2 linked regions of the Homo sapiens genome follow. The protein of the gene in region 1 purifies or fractionates together with the protein of each later gene. This does not show direct contact. Each region holds a gene or a part of one and is shown on either strand. Other genes may lie near its edges.

Region 1 (7,971 bases):
CTCACTGCAACCTCCACCTCCCGGGTTCAAGCGATTCTCCTGCCTCAGCCTCCAAGTAGCTGAGATTACAGGTGCCCACCACCATACCCGGCTAATGTTTGTATTTTTAGTAGAGACGGGGTTTCACCGTGTTGGCCAGGCTGGTCTTGAACTCCTGACCTCACGTGATCTGCCCACCTTGACATCCCAAAGTGCTTGGATTACAGGCGTGAGCCACCGCGACAGCCTTACGTGACATTTTATACACCACTATAGGGGTAGGACACCTAGGGAGGCCAGGATATAGTCTAGTTAGTCAAGAAAAGCAATGAATCGTTTACAAAACACAGACTGGAACTTACTTTAATAGAAACTTTGGTGTCTTTGTGAGCTAGCTTGAGAGCATTGTGGAATACCTTCAGGTCCTCTTCTAAAGCCAAGGTGGCAGCAGGTAGTTTCTGTTGTTCATGCTCTATGTGCTCAGCCAGTTTCCCAGGACAGTCTATGAAAACAAGCCTTTTGCTACCTTTGAGGCCAGTCAGCAGCCGCTCATGATACTTGGTGTACTCCCTGACCCAGGAGTTACAGTTATAGATATAGACTGCGGAGACGTTGTCGTAAGCAAAGCCAGGAAAAACAACAAACCACTTAGAGAGAAAGTCTGTTTTAAAGCGATTGCTAGGCCCGGTATGGGTAAGGTCCACTACAATTTCATATGGCTTTGCATAATATGGCTTTAAAGTCAGTAAGACATGGTATATCAGCAAATCACCATTGATTTGACCAGTTTTGAACCTAAGGAAAATGACAAAAAAGACAAAGATTATTAGCAGTGTTTAAAATAAATATACAGATGCCACTAATCAATTTTATTTTATGATTCATTTTCTAGAGAGAATAATATAAAACAATTCTTCAAAGTCTGGATTCATTTTTTAAATCAGTTGTTTTTTGGACACTGAGAAATAAGGCTAAGAGAAGAGACAAATCTCCAATTCAAAAATTTTGAGCCACGACAACAATAAAAAATTTGCCCATGAGTCAAGAAAGGAAGAAAACAGTGGGAATTAGTTGGTTGCCTGCAGGGCCCACCAAACTCCTTAGGCGAATAGTCTGGTAGGAATGACCCATCTGGAGCTCTGGAGTGAGATGGTTTTAGCCAATCCATTTATCCCACCTTGATCACAGACTGATTCAGCAATGAACACATTATTCAAACCAGGACAACCAGGGCCAAAGAGGCCCAGTTCAGGTAGTTTAGCTTAAATTGTTGGGATTTGAGATATTTCTTTCCTGGTGTTTATAAACAAGGGAATACGTAGCCCTAGGAGTTGCTAGCTCATATTTTGGGATATAAAAGAAGAGCCTCCCAAAAGACTGAAGAGAAGGAGCTGAGAAATAGACAAACTGGAACCCTGGCCATATCATTTGTGTATGAGATAAAGCCTCTCCTGGGGTCAAATTTATCCCAGGACTGCTCAGTTACATAAGCCAATAAATACCATTTTTTGATTAAGCCATATTAGGTCATATGTTGCTTAAAACCAAAAGAATACTAATAAATGGGAGCAGCCACAGTGAGGACCATGAAAAAGCCCTGAAGTAATGGTACCAAAGTTTCAAATCAAAACAATCTATGTTAACTTAGGCCCAAAGTTTTCCATATGTGATGATTCTGGTGATAATACTACTAAGTAAGTTAAAATAAATCTTTACCTCAGAGGTTGGTTAATGGATATAAAAATATAATCAGGGCTGGGCACAGTGGCTCACGCCTGTATTCCCAGCACTCTGGGAGGCTGAGGCAGGTGGGTTACATAAGGCCAGGAGTTCGAGACCAGCCTGGCCAACATGGCAAAACGCTGTCTCTACTAAAAATACAAAAATCAGCCAGGCATGGTGGTACATGTCTGTAATCCCAGCTACTTGGGAGGCTGAGGCACGAGAATCACTTGGACCTGGGAGGCAGAGGCTGCAGCGAGCTGAGATTGTACCACTGCACTTCAGCCTGGGCAACAGTGAGACTGTCTTAAAAAAATAATAATAAAATAAATAATATATGTATTGTTAGAATTAGATAGAAGGAACAAGTTCTACTATTCATAGTAAGGTGACTAGTTAATAATAACATTGTATATTTCAAAACAGCTAGACGAAACAATTTCTTTTCTTTGAGGCAATGGATATCCTAATCACCCTGATTTAATCATTACACATTATATGCATGTATCAAAATATCACACATACAGGCAGGGCATGGTGGCTCACGCCTGCAATCCCAGCACTTTGGGAGGCCAAGACGGGCAGATCACCTGAGGTCAGGAGGTCAAGACTAGCCTGGCCAACAGGGTGAAACCCTGTCTCTACTAAAAATACAAAAATTAGCTGGGCGTGGTGGCACGTGCCTGTAGCCCCAGCTACTTGGGAGGCTGAGGCAGGAGAATTGCTTGAACCTGGGAGGGGAGTTTGCAGTGAGCTGAGATTGTGCCACTGCACTCCAGCCTGGGCGATAGAGCGAGATTCCAACAAAAACAAAAACAAAAAAAACCAAAAAAATCACACATACTCCATTAATATGTACAAATTATCATGTATCAATAAAAAACTTCACCTCAGAATTTTTAATCTTGTTGGGAGAAAATAAGATAAAAATATGACAAGTCAAATGATTTTAAAACAACACAAATATTTCAAGATAGAAGATATGAGGTAGAAAGTAATCACTTATCAAAGGAAATGCAGAGAAAATACTGTTATTAAGACAAAGGAGAGAGAGAGAGAGATTAACACAAACTGGGCAGTCAGTGAAAGCTACATAGAAGATACAGTGGCTGAATCAGGTAAGGAGGAATGCAGACTCAGCAAGAGGACTGGGCAGGCCTTATGGAGAAAGGCAAAAAGGAAAAGAAACAGGTAACTAGATGTGTTGAAGAGACAGCTAGTCTAGCCAGAATGGAGGATTCAGGTAGAGAAGTTTTGAGAGATAAAGCTGGGAAAATACAGAATAGTCAAATTGTGGAGAGACCATAACTGCCCAACCAAAGGGCTTAGGTTTTCTACTAGGGGCTCACCATTTCTCAGCATATGTTCTGTGGACTACTGGCGTCAGAATCAACTGTGGTGCTTGATAAAAATGCAGTTTCCTGGTCCCAACCTGGACCTACTAAATATGGATCTATGTAGTGGGGCCTGGAAATTTTTATCTTTTTTTTTTTTCCCTTAACTCAGGCTGGACTGCAGTGGCACGGTCACAGCTCACTGTAGCCTTGACCTCCCCAGGCTCAGGTGATCCTCCCACCTCAGCCTCCTGAGTAGCTGGGACTACAGATAAGCGCCACCATGCCCGGCTAGTTTTTTGTTTTTGTTTTTTTGTATTTTTTGTAGAGACAGGATTTTGCCATGCTGCCCAGGCTGGTCTCGAATTTCTGTGGCTCAAGTAATCCTCCCGCCTCAGCCTCCCAAAGTGCTGAGATTACAGGTGTGAGCCACCATGTCCTGCTTTTATAATTTTTAAACAATCTTCTCATCTGATGTTTATGTACACAAACATTTCTGAATCATTGTTGTATGTATTAGGGAACTGTTCAACCGGTTTTATTTTCCCTTAAAGAAAGGGTGGTATGACCAAAGACAGTGATGTATACAAGATATAAGAAGGATTCAGGGCTACCGAAAAGGCACTGTAGAGTCTAGGTATGACCTGATAAGGATCTAAAATAGTACTGTTGACAGTAAAAACAGGGAAAAAGAAACTGATCCAACAATATGAAGGAAGGACCAACATGATTCAAAGTCTGATCAGGACTGAGAGGACTTAAATTAAAATGATGTGTTGTATACTAAGCCTCTGATATTAGAATGTTGCTATCATGAACAGAAACAAGAAGACTGTCACAGGCAGCCTCCTTTAAAGAAAAAATAAAGTTCTTTTTATTTCATTAATTTAATTAATTTTTAAGAGATGGAGTCTTGCTATGTTACCCAGGCTGGATTTGAACTCCTGGGCTCCACCAGTGATCCTCCTACCTCAACCTACCTAGTAGCTGGGATTACAGATATGTGCTGCCATATCCAGTTCTTTTTTTTTTTTTTTTTTTTTTTTTTTTTTTTTTTGAGACAGAGTCTTACTCTGTCTTCCTGGCTGGAGTGCAGTGGCATGATCTTAGCTCATGCAGCCAAGATCTCATGATCTCTGCAGCCTCCACGTCCCGGGTTCAAGCTATTCTCCTGTCTCAGCCTCCCAAGTAGGTGGGACTACAGGTGCATGCTACCCTGCCTGGTTAATTTTTATATTTTTAGTAGAGACAGGTTTTCTCTATGTTGGCCAGGCTGGTCTTGAACTCCTGGCCTCAAGTGATCTGCCTGCGTCAACCCTCCCAACGTGCTGGGATTACAGGTGTGAGCCACCGTGTTCAGCCCATACCTAGTTCTTAAAGTCTGTTTCAGTCATGTTAAACTTGAGGTGATGACAGGATGTTTGACAGTTGTGTGTGTGTGTGTGTGTGTGTGTGTGTGTGTGTATACACACACTACACCACACGAAAGCATTTTCTGTCCCATATAATCTAAGTTTACTAGATATTTTCTCAAATAATTGCTGCAGTTCCACAATTGTTACATTATCTGATCAGTATCCCATGGACTCCAAACTCACATTTTCAAATCAGTCTGTAGATTTCAAATAAGTCTTTTAGAGAAGATTTGAAATGGAAGATACCATTTCAAAACCTCTTTTGAATGACACTAAAGCATGTAGCAGGCCTATAGAATGAGCATACTGTCAAAAGGCATTAAGTGGAAAACCCTCCCTGCTCTGGAGGCGGGGATTGGTTCTACAAAGCCTCCTGTCATGCCAGTGGCCAACTAGAGAAGTTGGAGCTTTTTCGTTGTTTTTTTTTTTTTCCCTCCTGTGACATGTGCTTTAGTTGCAGTGGAAAGGAAATGTGTCATCTGTGGTTTGGTTTTAAAAGTGGAAAACTAGCTGCACATATCCTTTTTTACTGCAGATTTACTTTAAGGCTCATATTCTCCAAGTCTATTCTGCTTTAAAAAGAAGACAAGAAAAGAAGTGGTTTATCAAAATCACGTTATAATCAGATTTTGACCAAGCATTTTGTAAGGTAGGTCATATATATACGGCTTTTCTTATGCCTTTTCACTTCTAACGTCTGACAGATTAGTGTTCGAGGAAATGCTATCAAAGTGTGTAAGAATCTCACTAACAAACTAGAATTGTGACTGAAAATGTATACTTTTTTTTTCTGTCCTGTTACATAAATTTTAAGTTAGAAATGAAAAAATTTGCCATCGCCATGGAGTTTTAAATTAGGATTACGAAGGATCTAAGTTTGGTTTCCTCAAGTAAACTGGAAATGTTTTGTTATTTTTCAAAAGTTAAAAAATAAATTTCTCATTACTAATGCTTGGACATTACAAATTCTACTGAAAATAAATTCTACTGAAAATGATCAGATATAAGAAAACTTCTGATAACACAACCTGGCCTCCAAGGCATAAACTGGAGTAAAAACAGTCCTCAATTCTCAGGCATTTGTAAGGGCAAGAGAAAGTCTCATTTTGTCATACAGTTTGTTTATTTGGGCACTGCAGTACATCTGGCTGAAGACAATCAACAGCAGGCCTATTATCTGTTCCGTGGTAAGCACTGTTAAAATGTGTACCAATACTATGATGTATACTACACTGTTAATGAACTAATGTGAAAAGAATAATCTACTTTAAATCATTCTAGCATCTAATACAGAAGTCCAGTCTAGTATAAAAAGATGGAAATTACTTGCTAATCCAATTTCAAGTATTTCTTTTTGTGGAAGAATCATGAAATATCCAAAGATTTATGTCACTAAACTTAAAAATTAAAGCTGAACACTATTATACAAAAGCCAGTGACTTGGGCCTTTAATTGTCTACTAAAGGTCATAATCTAAAAAGTAATCTTAATCCTGGAATATTTAATAGTTTTTCCTCCCTACTATTAATATGAAATATAGTCTCCAGTTAGCATTGTTTATTACATGCTACTTTTGTTTGCATAACTCAACGTATCACATTTCTTATTTTCAATTTCTGTATTTTAATAGTATACAAATGTCAGCCAATGACATATAACAACCATTTCTTATAAAACCTTGATGTTCAAAAGCCTGACTAGCAGTGGCATCCATGTTGCTTAGGAGTTGGTTTGGAAACAAAGACTTTCAGGCCCTACCTATACTAGCTAGGTAAGAATCTGCCTTTTTTTTTTTTTTTTAAATAAAAGGACTCCTAAGTACATTTGAGAAGAATTTCTATAGCATACGTAGGGTTCTTAACCAGGCAATTTCATTTAGTAAATCTCAGGAGAACAATATAGTTTTGCTTTTAGTTCATTCAAATAAATGCTAACAATAAAATACTCCTTTCAAAAGTAGCTCAAGACAAACTGGTATATTATTATAAGATACCTTAATAATGATTATAAATCTTTCCTGCTGGGTTAGCAGTACATGGAACTGTTAAATTCTAAGATATGCCATTTCTATTTAAATCAATCATTTGGTAGATTTAAAAAATGTATAATATAACTTGTCTCCTTTTTGTACTAGTTTCCAGCAAGCTCAGGGCCAAAGCGGAAATTCAACATTTTCAATTATCTGTTGAGATGCTTATAACCTGCCACTTCATCCCAAATCATCAAGATCCTGATGCTCTATTTCTATTTTATTACACATTTTTTTTTACAATTATGTCAAAATCAGAAAAAATGCTAGGTATAAATGATGCTTTAAAAGAAAACCCAGCAACTTTTGTTGAACTTTTAAGTCTACTCAGAGGAAATTTGCTGTTTTTTTTTTTTTTTCTTCAGATTTTTAGGTTGAGAAAACTGGTATGCCTTTGCCTTCAGAAAGACACAGTCAGTCCAGGGAAATATAAATGAAAAGAGACAACCACCACAGTAAAATTGCGTTCACAAATACACTTACAAATGTATTTCTAAGTACCAGCTTTATTCTAAGCTTCAAGATGAACACCCAAGAAAAAAAAAGAACACCTTGAATTTCTATTTGAAGTTCAGTTTCTTTTGGTTGCTACCAAACTTCCCCTCTTTCCACCAAAAAAATTTGCATTTATTTCATACATGAAGCAAGAAGCTCAAGGCCACATTTCTTCTGTAAAGATTGGTGACAGGTTAGAGGGTGGGTAGTTTCTGTAAGAATGATCCTTAATTTTTTTTTTTTTTTAAAGAAGGAATCAGAAAAGTAAAAGCAGAACTAACTGACTCAAAGCAGAAGTCTAGCACGCTTCAAAGGAAGAAAACTATATAAAGCCATGATAGTCCACTTAAAATGATTAATATTTATTTGTAATGCTAACTTCTAGCATCTAAAAGTGTTAATAGAAATTAAAATGCTTCTTCATACATAGCTGAATAGAAAAGAAATTTAGTTGAGAAGGAATTCAGGGTAGCGAATATTAGGCATAAGCTTGTAGTTTACTTGTAACATCTCAACACTATCTTTTAACTACAATTACCAAAACTAGGATCCATTATTCTTTCACAAACTAACAAATTATATTGCTATCCCAACAGATTGCCAAGCATGCCCACGGACATGGAACACACAGGACATTACCTACATCTTGCCTTTCTGATGACAACAGTTTTTTCTTTGTCTCCTGGAACAAAAGCAAACTATACCCGTCTGTGGGCTAACAGTACTTCTTCCTGGGATTCAGTTATTCAAAACAAGACAGGCAGAAACCAAAATGAAAACATTAACACAAACCCTATAACTCCTGAAGTAGATTATAAAGGTAATTCTACAAACATGCCTGAAACATCTCACATCGTAGCTTTAACTTCTAAATCTGAACAGGAGCTTTATATACCTTCTGTCGTCAGCAACAGTCCTTCAACAGTACAGAGCATTGAAAACACAAGCAAAAGTCATGGTGAAATTTTCAAAAAGGATGTCTGTGCGGAAAACAACA
Region 2 (7,025 bases), on another chromosome or scaffold:
ATGAGGCACAGGGTCAGCTGCTTCAGATTCCACAGACCTATCTGGGAGTTTTTGTACCCCAGGGTTCTTTTTTCATTGGCTCCCAGATATTTATCTATACAGCCCTCATTTCCTCTGCAACACTTTCTCTTCCCCTCTTCTACCATCTAGCCTGGGAAATCACTTTCTATTCTAGGAGACTTCTTATTCGTCATGTAATCTTCTAAATCAATGCCTATTTTTTAAAAGATTCTCGGCCGGGCGCGGTGGCTCATGCCTGTAATCCCAGCATTTTGGGAGGCGGAGGTGGGTGGATCACTTGAGGCCAGGAGTTCGAAAACAGCCTTGCCAATGTGGCAAAACCCTGTCTCTACTAAAACTACAAAATGTAGCCAGGAGTGGTGGTGCATGCCTGTAATCTCAGCTACTTGGGAGGCTAAGGCACGAGAATAGCTTGAATCTGGGAGGCGGAGGTTTCAGTGAGCCGAGATCACACCACTGCATTCCAGCCTGGGTAACAGAGCGAGACTCTACCTCAAAAAAAAAAAAAGATTCTCCAAAAGATACAGGCTTTTAAAAATCCAAAGGAAGGAAGGAACTCCCGTTTCTTTGCTTTTTTTTCTCATAGCCCTTCAAAGAAGTAACAACTATAGAAAGGTGTGGCTACTGAATTTATTTTCTGGGCAGTATGGTAGGAGGAGAGTAATGTGAAGAGCTAAGGGAAAGATATTTGAGTAAAAAAAAAGTTAGGTAATATTCATGAGTTTGTCATTGATATCATATAGACATGCAAATGTTATCGCATACTGGATAGGGCTCAGAGCAGCTTCCAGGACCCACACTGATTTACACCAGCATTTCTAGGCAATTCTGTAAGTCCTGCAGCCCCTCAAGGTTTTAGAAATCCAGCTTCTGTACTGGCTCCTTAATGTCTAAGCTTCTGTTCTCTTCTCTCTGTAAGCAAGATAATAGTACCTACCTCACAGAATAGTAGCCAGAATTCAGCAACCTACCCTAGCACTCACTGTAGGCACTCAGGCAGTGATAGCTATTATTTATAATAGTACCAAGAAAAGTAATTAACAACAGGTTACTGTTCATATCAATTTTCAAGTTTTCAAACAGTCTTGATATTGGCTCTAGTATAACTCTAATTTATCAATACAATTGTGAACATTAGCACAGTTTTTCTTGTAGCAGTTCTCTAAATTCTTTTTCTACTCATCTACCTACCCTTTCATATTCCTGTCTTTTACCCTGCATAAACAAATTGTCCCTTTTTTTTTTTTTTTTTTTTTTTTCGAGGCAGAGTCTCGCTCTGTCATCCAGGCTGGATTGCAGTGGCACAGTCTCGGCTGACTGCAACATCTGCCTCCCGGGTTCAAGCGATTCGCTTACCTCAGCCTCCTGAGTAGCTGGGATTACAGGCATGTGCCACCATGCCTGGCTATTTTTTTTTTTTTTTGAGACGGAGTCTCACTCTGTCGCCCAGGCTGGAGTGCAGTGGCGTAGTCTCAGCTCACTGCAAGCTCTGCCTCCAGGGTTCATGCCATTCTCCTGCCTCAGCCTCCCAAGTAGCTGGGACTACAGGCGCCCGCCACCATGCCCGGCTGATTTTTTTTTTTTGTATTTTTAGTAGAGACAGGGTTTCACCATGTTAGCCAGGATGGTCTCGATCTCCTGACCTCATGATCCGCCCATCTTGGCCTCCCAAAGTGCTGGGATTACAGGCGTGAGCCACCGCACCCGGTCCCAGCTAATTTTTATATTTTTAGTAGAGATGGGGTCTCACCATGTTGGCCAGGCTGGTCTCTAGCTCCTGACCTCAGATGATCTGCCTGCCTTGGCCTCCCAAAGTGCTGAGATTATAGGCATGAGCCACTGCACTCAGCCAAATTGTCCCTTTTCTAATCAGCACTTCTACCCCCACACCACTGTGTTGCTATTGTAAACAATGCAGATGGTTGTTCAAGTATTCTGTGAATGCAAGCGAAACATAAGCTAACATGGAGAGATGTTTCTGGAAAGGTGTGAACAAATTGAGTCAAACCCGCATGTACTCAGAGCATGCATTACATAAAGGAAACTCGAGGTGGGCTCTCTTATAAAATGTACAGTCTTCTCATATCTGTCATATAAAGACAATTCACTTGTTTTACAGCTTCATATAGTTAAAGAAACTCATGTAATTTGTCTCAAGTGTTTAAGAAAGTCTTCATTTAATTAAAAAGAAAAGTACAGTTCATAATATAACAGAGCCAGGTCTGCCATTTCTTTGTTCATATTTCATCGTTTCGTGCCAGTCAAACTACCTGTCCTGTGACAAGTGGAATGGAGCTTGCATGTTCCCTATTAATTGATAATGGTGTTAACAAGGGTTTATTATATCTACTCTAGAAACTTTGGAAATACAGTGATTCTTAGCTATTCCCTGGCAGATCTCAATATTCTCTAAATTAGACTAACATTTTACCACAAAACTCGAATGGTAATTGCCTTCTTCCAATTTACCAAAGAACTTAAGTTGATAGTTAGAATCCTCTGTGCAGTACATGTGTGAACACATATGTGCATGTACACATGCATAAATTAGTATCAAAGACATGAACAGTTTCAACTTGTTCAGTAAATTGGGCAGTTGATGTCAGGGCACATGTAGAAGTTGAATTTTCTTAATATTCATTTGCTCTGCTGCTGCTTATACTTGCCAGCGAATAATATTAAAGGAATTCCTAAAATAGCTGTTCATTGTTTGATTAACTGCCTCTTGTTCTTGTTTTTCATTAACATTTGCTAATGCTGTTATAATATAGTGCTTTCTAACTCTTTTCATGACAGGACAGGACATATATATATGTGTGTGTGTATATATATATATGTATGTATATATAAAATATACACACACAGTTATAATGTTTATATGGGACACTGGGGTAAAGGGCTCAGGAATTTGCCCAGAGGCTGAGGCGATGAGCACACACGGACCCTCTTCAAGGTGTACCGTCGTACGCTGTGCACAGCCTGAGAAGCTGTAAGGTGCCACATCGCAGACATCATATAGTCCTGATTTCTGCTAGCAACATTGTTTCCGTGATCTTATGATCATTAATCACCAGTGTTCTGTTTCATCATCTACAAAAGAGCACTGTTACTCTCCAGCTGTTCCCCTTCCTGATGAACTTGCGAAAGTGGAGAGAAGGATATAAACTCAGAAGTGTCTTTGCTTGGTGGGTAAATTAGGTCTCCTTGCTATGTTCCTTCTGCAACCAAATAACTTTCTGCGAACACTTAATGCAGAGCTTGATACCCTGAGGGTTCAGAAGGGAAGAGACCATCAGGCAGTATGGTCTTTGCCTCATTTCTAAAAAGCTTCTGGTTATATCTGAGCTGAGCTGCTTCTAAATGCCAGGGCCTCCCTTGACAATGTTTCTTTTTTCTCACACGCTCCTTTCAAAAGGACAAGACACATTTAAAGATACAATTAAATATATTGAAGTTACAAAGCAATTTAAAGAAATTAAGCAATAAGACACACCCAAATATATGTTACAAAGGAATTTAAAGAAATTAAAGTAAATAGAACATTTTCCTCTTTTATTTGCATTGAAATAAAGTATTATTTCTTTACTCCTAGTATGTTATTGGAACTGTGATATACTTATTTAGAAAAAAAAGGTACTGAATCCTGGAATTCAAACCTAATCTTAGGTTTGAGTCCCAGAACTACCACTTATCCAATGAAATGAACAAGCATAGTTATTGTTTAAGCCTTCTCAATAAAATGGGACTGATGATACCTGAGGAGATCTCATGTATGAAAATATTTTGTCCAAAAGCAAAAGGTAAATACAATTGGTTTTTGTATTAAAAGGGCTCAATGAGCCCTCCAGTCCAGTGGCAGCTGCTTGTAGGAATTCAGACACTCAGTTGGTGAGGGCAGCTCTGGTGATGCCAAGTTGACGTGCGCCCTCCCTCTTTATTTCCTCCCTCGCCCTGCAGAGTAACCTGATCCACTACCTGGGACTGAGCCATCACCTGCTGGCACTGAATTTTATCATTGTTTCTTTTGGCAAAAAAAGCGCGTGGTCTTCTGCCCAAGTGAAGGTGACCGACACAGACTTTGATGGTGTGGAAGTCAGAGTGTTTGAAGGCCCTCCGAAGCCCGAAGAGCCACTGAAACGCAGCGTCGTTTATATCCACGGAGGAGGCTGGGCCTTGGCAAGTGCAAGTGCGTCCTGGTCACCTTCAGATGGTTTGTTGTTGTGGTTGGCCTTGGGGGAGATGCGTAACTGAGTTTGGCTTTCTTAGTGGGAAAGAAGGGGACCATTTATCTAGGTTCCCCTGGATGGTCCCAGTTACCCCTGTTGTCCCAGCAAAATTATGACTAGTGCCCCCTTTTCACTCTCAAAAGGGTCCTGGTTTGGGTGATAAATTAAATGGTTATCCTTTGTAAAGGTTTTTTGCTTGTTAGTTTGTTTGTCAATTCAGGTAGACTGTTGTAAAAATATTTCCTATGATCTAAATCACAGACTAACTTATTGTGCAGTGCTGATACAGCTTTCTGCACCAAAACAAGGTGAAGTTTCACCAGGCACGCATATGGGGAATTATCTGTGCTTCTTTTGCCAACTTGTGTTTTGAAGATATATTTCTATGAAATAGACCAGGTATTCCTTAATACACATGTTAACATTTTATCTGCTTATGAAAGCAAAGGTAAAAATATATGCAACCATTCAAAGGAAACAATCTTGCAAAGTTCAAGAATATTTTCTTTAGATTTGGATGATTTTTATGAGTAGAACACATTCAAAATGGCAGGCAGCCAAACAGAGCCGCCCAGAAGAGAACCTCCCAAGGCGGAATTCGGGGTCTTGTCTCTGCTAATAAATGATCATGGAGCTACTTCCTCATCTTCAGTCCAGAGCTTTTGGCATCCCCTTAGTTTAAAAGCAATGGCAACTTGTTTTTTTTATTTTATCATTATGTGATTTTTTTTTAAAAGCAACAAAGGTCAAAAGGTTTGACTTTTTCTAGTAATCTTATTTAATTCCATATCCGTTGTTTATTCTTTTATTCAGTGATTTTTTTTCACATTTTCAATAGCTGTTCATGAGTATGTAGGTTTGCCCGAGACCAAGGGGTTTGCTGGGCTGCAGGTCTTTCAGTGCAAAAGCTCAAACAGTTGTGGGCAAGTCTGGACCATTGGTCAGTCTAAGGTGTGCTCGGGTGTAGGGATACAAAAATGAATAAGAAGGAGTTTCTGCCTTAAAAGAGATTGAATCTGTAGCATTGGACGCTTGCCAGGAAAAACATTGTACTGGAGGACAGCAAGTATGGGTGCCAGGAATGGGATGGATTACAAGAGTCAGCCTGGCCTTTTCTGCATAATTTTGACTGATCACTTCTGCCTGAGGAAGAACTTGAGCAGGTGGAGGTAACAGGTGTCTATGTAATTCTTAAGCTTCCGATTCTAAGACTGCCTTGGAAACCCTATAAATAAGGAAATGTTTGGCTCTCAGTTGGCACAATATAGATCTTAATTTACTGAGAGTAACTAAGAATTAAATTCTTACATATTAAATTGGTTCTGTTACTGCAGACCTTTGGAATCCTCTAAGAAATGCTAAGACTTCCTAAAATTCTAGTTTTTTACGTGTTCATTTAAAGAAAATACCATATTCTTCAAATTGATCACTTTACTGAACTGCAGCAAATGAAGTGTTAAAAGAGCAAAATTGTTAAAATTATTATTTTTAGACATAAGATCTCACTCTGTCACCCAGGCCAGAGTACAGTGGCTCTATCACAGCTCATTGTAACCTCAAACTCTTGGGCTCAAGTAATCCCCCTTCCTCAGCCTCCCAAGCAACTGGGACTGCAGGCGTGCACCACTATGCCTGGCTAATTAAAAAAAATTTTTTTATAGAGGCAGCATCTGGCTATGTTGCTCAGGCTGGTCTCAAACTTCTGACCTCAAATGATCTCCTTCCTTAGCCTCCTGAAGTGCTGAGATTACAGGCATGAGCCACCACTCCCAGCCTAAAATTGCATGATTCTAAGGAAGAGACTGCTTATTTGCTGTGATTTTTTTTCCAGAAAGATGTATACATTTGAAGAGCTATAAAATCAGGATTAATTTGGTGCATTTCATATAGTCCGTTATGAAATAAATATTTAGATAGTAATATATTCAAAACTAAACTATGCATTTCCTGTTATATAGTAGTTGCATGTTATTAGAAATCAGATTTAATTTTTCATGTGTACATGTAACTCTATTATTTGTTCACATTTGCTTTTTATTATTTGTTTTTAGTATTAGCTCCAAGCCTAAAAACAATTCACACTTAGCAGAATTTATGAGTGGACAGTATTAAATGACCTGTTTTGTAATGATTGTTCCCTTTGTGTCTTTTAGAAATCAGGTATTATGATGAGCTGTGTACAGCAATGGCTGAGGAATTGAATGCTGTCATTGTTTCCATTGAGTAAGTAATTAATGCTAGTCATAGAAAATTTTTCTTATAAAGGAATTCTAGATAACAGTCTGGTTACTTTGTTTTACAAGTGATAAAGTAAAAAATAAAGGTCTCAAGTTGGCAAAGAGATATGCCCAAAGTCACACTCAGCATAATCAGAAAAATGATTTCTGATGTAACAAAATTTATTGAACTAGCTTTATAACACTTCAAATTACCTTTTCACCGTTAGTTTTGAAAACTGAAAAAAGGATTAACTAAAAACCTAGAGAAGTATGCAATCAGTTACCTGCAACATATAACTTTTTAAATCTAAAAAGTAGTAAGGATTTTAAGAGAATCTCTTCTACAGCTGAGAGTTGAAAAAGTTGCTCTCTTAGAGTCAGGTTCTATGACTTGTGCCTTGGGAACAGAAATACGTGTTCAACAAATTTTAATGGTGTGGTTAGTAGTAATAGTAGTAATATTAATATTTTGGGTTGTCTCTGTCAGTTCTGTATAAGCCACTTTTCTGGGCAACTAAGAAGAATGTGAATAATAATTATAATAATTTTGATGATAATA

Evidence for each region. The genes of interacting proteins can lie anywhere in the genome.
Region 2: the proteins of EVI2A (region 1) and NCEH1 purify together in Homo sapiens (affinity purification with mass spectrometry; 2 studies listed by BioGRID and IntAct, with this or other methods). This does not show direct contact.

Annotation. Positions count from the first base shown.
Region 1 is NC_000017.11:31,318,623-31,326,593, reverse strand, and holds the start of EVI2A (protein EVI2A isoform 2 precursor), read left to right. Parts: upstream 1-4,971; 5' UTR 4,972-5,099; intron 5,100-6,080; exon of another isoform or gene 6,081-6,162; coding exon of another isoform or gene 6,163-6,221; intron 6,222-7,570; coding exon of another isoform or gene 7,571-7,580; coding exon 7,581-7,971. Other genes in the region: NF1 (neurofibromin), read right to left, coding at 342-774. UniProt on the Homo sapiens protein: May complex with itself or/and other proteins within the membrane, to function as part of a cell-surface receptor.
Region 2 is NC_000003.12:172,645,068-172,652,092, reverse strand, and holds part of NCEH1 (neutral cholesterol ester hydrolase 1), read left to right. Parts: intron 1-3,978; coding exon 3,979-4,207; coding exon of another isoform or gene 4,208-4,231; intron 4,232-6,400; coding exon 6,401-6,470; intron 6,471-7,025.